2 separate regions of the Homo sapiens genome follow, and region 2 is linked to region 1. A link means that fine-mapping ties the variant in region 1 to the expression of a gene that starts in the linked region. Tissue or cell type: whole blood. Region 1 holds a variant in brackets; the other region holds the start of a gene. All regions are shown on one strand. Distances are between the middles of the regions.

Region 1 (2,684 bases):
AGGCACACATATAATTACATCATAAAAATTTAAAATATCTTGACAATTGTATTTCAATGCCTTTGATTTTCATTATTCTATGTATTTTATTTTATGTGTTTAAGGCATTAATTTTTAAGGGGATCATAGACTCCACCACACTGCCCCAGAGGTCCATGGTACACAAGGCCAAAGCCTCTGCACAGAGTGTCCTCGCTGACCCTCCAGCCCAGAGCTTGCATCTTTCCCGGCTCCATCTCTAGTCGGAAAGGGTTTGCATCATGCACTGGCATCCTGATTTTGCAGGAAAGTTGCAGGAGAGGTAGGCACCTGCTTGTGTGATTGAAGGGGGCTTCAATGCTCCAATGTAGCCCCTTGGCATGTCACTTTTAAAATCAATATGTGTTGAGCACATCACACATGCCAGGTCCTGTTCTTTTTTTTTTTTTTTTTTTTTTTTTTGAGACTGAGTCTCGCTCTGTCACCCAGGCTGGAGTGCAGTGGCGCGATCTCGGCTCACTGCAAGCCCCGCCTCCCGGGTTCACACCATTCTGCTGCCTCAGCCTCCCGAGTAGCTGGGACTACAGGCGCCCGCCACCACGCCTGGCTAATTTTTTGTATTCCCAGGTCCTGTTCTTAAAGCAATGACCAGAATAGAGCAATGAAAAAGAAACATTTTCTTTGGTGAAGTTTATATTCTTAGTGGAGAGACAGATGATAAATAAGAAAAATAAGTTAAATAATTAGTGGATTGGATGGGGATAAATGCCAAAGAGAAGAATGAAGCTGGGAAAGGGAATAGTGAGTGTGTGTGTGTGTGTGTGTGTGTGTGTGTGTGTGTGTGTGTGTTTTAGGGGGTTTTCAATGAAGGGAGGGCCTTTTTTGGAAGTAAGCAAGAGGGTCTCGCAGAATAGGGGTCACCGGAGTCAAGACCTGAAGGAGATGAGGCAATAAGCCATGCAGATATTTGGGGAAAGAGTGTAATGGAGGGGAACAGCTAGTGCAAGGGCCCTGAGGCTGCAGTGTGCCTGGCATGGACTGGTTCAGGGCAGCAAGGAAGCAGGAATGGCTGGAATGAGGAGGAGAGGAGTGAGAGATGGGTTGGAGAGGTACCACATGGAGCCTCTAGTCCACATAGGGACTTTGGCTTTTACTTTGGGTGGGATGCAATAACATTGGAGGATTTGTTTTATTATTCTTTTATTTATATTTATTTATTTATTTTTGAGACAGGGTCCCTCTCTGTTGCTCAGGTTGGAGTGCACTGGTGTAATTATAGCTCACTGCAGCCTTGATCTCCCAGGCTCAGGCAATCCTCCTACCTCAGCCCACTGAGTAGCTGGAACCACAGGCAGGCGCCACCATGCCTTTGGTTTTTAGTAGAGATGAGGTCTCACTATGTTGCCCAGGCTGGTCTCGAACTCCAGAGCTCAAGCAGTCCTCCAGCCTCGGCCTCTCAGAGTGCTGGGATTATAGGTGTGAGCCACTGCGCCTGGCCCCATCAGAGGATATTGAATAGGCAAGGGACTAAATTTTCGAAAGAATCTCTCTGGCTGTCATGGTGAGAGCAGACAGAATGGAGCATAGCAAAATTGGGGAGATCAGT[T/C]AGGACACTATTGTGATAAGGCTAATGAGCGATAAGGGGCTTGGATGTTGCAGCAATGGAGGTGGTAATAAGTATTATTATAGAAGTCTAGATATATTTAGAAAGAGCCAAGAGGATCTACTGATGGATCCAGTGTGGAAAGCGTCAGAGGGGAACGTCAAAATCAACTATGAGATCCTTCCTCTGAATCGCTGGAGGGCCAGAACACCGCATACTAAGCAGGAAGGCTGTGGGAGGAGCTGGTTTTCAGTGGGGTGAGCTCAGGAGCTCAGTTCAGGACATCTTACGTTTGAGACCCTGTCAGTGGAGTGGTCTGGGTTGGAAATGTAACTTTGGGAGAGATCTGCATTTGGATGGTGTATAATGCAGACAGGGCTGGGTCATAGTGCTCAGTGAGCACTATGCCAAGTGCTTTCTAGCACCTTCTCACCTCACTCCCCCAACAAACCCAAGAGGAGGGTGCTATTATCACCCCCATTATTTAGATGGATAAACTAAAACCCAAGGGGGCAAGGGACTCACTAAAGTCACACCACGAGGAAAAAGCAGAACCGGATCCCAACTTATATGTGTCCCATTTCAAAACTCAAGCTCTGTAACCCATATATACTATTGTAATTTCTTCTTTTTTATTTTATTTTTATTGATACATAATATTTGTACATATTTATGGGGTACATGTGATTTTTGTTACATGCATAGGATGTATAATGACCAAGGCAGGGTATTTAGGACATCCATCACCTCGAGTATTTGTCATTTCTTTGTGTTGGGAGCATTTCAAATCCTCTTTTCTAGCTATTTTTTTTTTTTTGAATCAGAGTTTGGCTCTTGTTGCCCAGGCTGGGGTGCAACGGCACGATCTTGGCTCACTGCAACCTCCACCCCCCAGATTCAAGTGATTCTCCTCCTCAGCCTCCCAAGTTGCTGGGATTACAGGTGCCCACCACCACGTTCAGCTAATTTTTGTATTTTTAGTAGAGATGGAGTTTCACCATGTTGGCCAGGTTGGTCTCGAACTCCTGACCTCAGGTGATCCACCAGCCCCGGCCTCCCAAGGATGGTGTCAATTTTTCTAATTTGAACAACCAGTTATATG
Region 2 (2,684 bases), 26 kb before region 1:
TCTCTCTGTGTCTTAATTTCTTTCTCTATGATGATAACCAGAACTCCCATGCAAGTGCATATGATGTTTTCCTGGGCTGTGGACTGAGTGACGTTCCATACATTATTATCCTCACCACCACCTTTTAAAGGTCATATAAGTTAGTTCTCATAACTTTGTGACGTCGACATTATCTCCCCATTTTACAAATGAGAAAACTGAGGTTCAGAGATCAGTGACTAAAATTCGAACATGTGTTCTTTCCACTCCACCATGAAAGAATGAACCCAGAGACCCTCCGTGGGCTGAGCGCATCATCCAGCTGGCACTGAACTCAGATTTCTACCCCACAGTAAAGACCCTGGTCTCTGCAATGAGTTGAGCCCAGGTCCCTTTCCCTGGCTAGGTTTTGGCTGCCCCTCTTCATCAGCTGAGCCGCAGAGAAGACTCCGTGTCAAATTTCCTTCCAAGGCAGACTCCACCAAGCACTAGCTATGTATCATTCGAAAAGTTACTTTGACTTTCTGTGCCTCAGTTTTCTCTTCTGTAAATTAAGGATCCAGCTTCTCAGGACTGTTTGTGAAGAGTAGATTAGTATTTGCAGAATGCCTAGAATAGTGTTACAGTCGCTAGATTAAACTTTTTTTTTTTTTTTAAATACCATGTGGGGAGCAGTGTTCCTGGGCTCTGGGCTCAGCCTGAAACCTAGCAGAATAGGCATTTTATGTCCCTATTGACAGGGGTTCTGCCAGGCCGCCGTAGAGCCCATGGATTTGAGTTACCGGCTCTATTTTAGAAGGGGGTGAAGAGGTAGGGAAGGGCTGGGGAGCTTTCTGGGATAGGGAGACTGCCCATTGAAATCTGGGTGTCTGGGACACTGGAGGAAGAATAAGAAAGAAGCCCTGGGAGGTGACGATTTTGGTATCATGGTGGTCTTCAGAGGTAGGGACAGAGTGCTGGGGTGAGAGTCGCTGAAGAAAGGTGTCTGAAAGGTTAAGGGACTGAGGTTGTGGGAAGCTGGGGTTCCTGAGAGGCCTTGGGATTAGAGATGGGGGCTGGATCTGCTGGGTCCTAGACAGCGCGTCCAACGCTCCCCGCAGCGCGTTCCGGAGCCGGTCCTAGCGCCGCTCAACCAGTCCCCACTCCCTCCGGTGAAATTGCCAAATTAAAATGAATCATTTGGCCCATAATGGCCGAGGCGCTTATCGGGGGCGGGCGGACCCGCGGCAGTGCCTTATCTCTGCGGCGCACACGGCCCCGGCGCGCCTCGGCCCATGCTAACGAGGCCTGGAACGTGAGTGGGATTACAGCGCGTCGGTGGAGGGGCCGGGCGGGCGCGGGGCGGGCGGGGGAGCGGGGGCCGCGGGAGGGGCCGGGCCGCCGCCGCTCAGGACCGGGCCTCAAAATGGCCACACGCGTACCCCCGTAGCGGAAAAACGTGAGCATTCTGGCCTTTTTCTAGGGGAAAAGCAACCCGCGGCCTCCCACCGAATTCTTCATCAATTTCCTCCTCTTTTTCCCCACGTCCGCAAAAGAGGTCTTCGCTCCCTTTCCCTCGGTTCCTTTCGATGGCCGGGGGGGGCGGTGGGGGGGCATTTTCCACGGACGCCCCCGCCCCGGCTGCCGCCGCCCCTCCCGCCTCGGAGACTCTCTTCCTTCCTTCCCCCTTTTCCTTACGCAATATACAGAAATGCGCGAGGCTGTGGTTGGTTTTCATTTCTTCTTCGTGGTTGTGTGCATGCGGTGGGATTGTGAGAGTGCGTTCATGAGAACTGTGGGCGGCGTTGGCTGCTTCTAAGTGTGGTCTTCTTGGCGACAGGCTCTGTGTCCGAGTGTGGTGTGCCTGCGCGGTTGGGGTGTGTAGATGTGGACCCTTCGAGGCCCTTCTGCGTTTTCTTCGTTGCGTACGATTGTGCTCCGTTGGTGTTCTCAGCAGGGATCTGATTCTGTGTGTGGGGGTGTGTGGCCCCTGCGACTGTGTTTGGGTGGTGTCGTCGTTATGTCGGGCGTGTGTGATCCCGACTGTGCTGGATTGTGTGTCCGTGAGCCGCTGCGTTTGACTGATTTCGTTGTGTCCTGTTGGGCAGTGTGCGGGGCTGACCAAGTCGGCTTCTGGGGCAGTGCTAGGTGGTGTTTGTTTGCTGCCCTTCTGTGGGGCTGGACCCTGTGTGGTCCTGTCCGCACTGAGTTGTATGCCTGTGTGCCTGTGTCCTTTAGAGGTGCGTTTGCAAATCGCTGGGGGCGGGAGTGGGGGGAGGGCGAGCGAGAGATCGAGGCGCTGGTGGGGGCGGCGGCATGGGGGCGGGGAGCGGGATTTCACATTTTATTCCAAATTATGATGTATTCGGGAGCCAGTTGTTGGCTTGGGTGGGCGGACAGCGCCCGGTCGGCGGCTGCTCTGCCCGGAGGCCCGCCTGTGCCTAGGTGTTTGAGGGGTTCGTTGGTGAGTGGGAGGCTCCTCCAGGCTTGAAGCTGAGCAGCGCTCGCCGAGGCCGGCGCCTTCGAGCCGGTAGCTGCGGGCTTCGGTTCCCGCTGCACTCCGGCTTCATCCATTTCTGGTCAGTTTCGTGGGTGCGGCCGCCGGGCTCCAAGGGAGAGGCCCCGAAAGGACAATGGGCACATTCACCAGGCCTCGAGCCTCGGGTGGGGACATTCGGGATCACCTCCTGGGAAGATTTTCCCGCCCCCTCTTCGGGTGAGCGACG

What was found. PIP is the estimated chance that this variant, and not a neighbour inherited with it, causes the effect.
Region 2: it holds the start of TAL1, and the variant in region 1 is fine-mapped to the expression of TAL1 in whole blood (INTERVAL, PIP 0.98).

What each region holds. Positions count from the first base shown.
Region 1 is chr1:47,204,839-47,207,522 of GRCh38, reverse strand. No RefSeq gene overlaps it. Among named protein-coding and RNA genes, the nearest start is that of PDZK1IP1, 16 kb to the right of the region's middle. The variant T/C (reference allele first, on the strand shown) is at 1,586.
Region 2 is chr1:47,230,900-47,233,583 of GRCh38, reverse strand. TAL1 (TAL bHLH transcription factor 1, erythroid differentiation factor) reads left to right here and starts at 1,359. Exons shown (of 5, transcript NM_001290403.2): 1 at 1,359-1,417. RefSeq lists enhancers at 1,190-2,163, 2,164-2,684.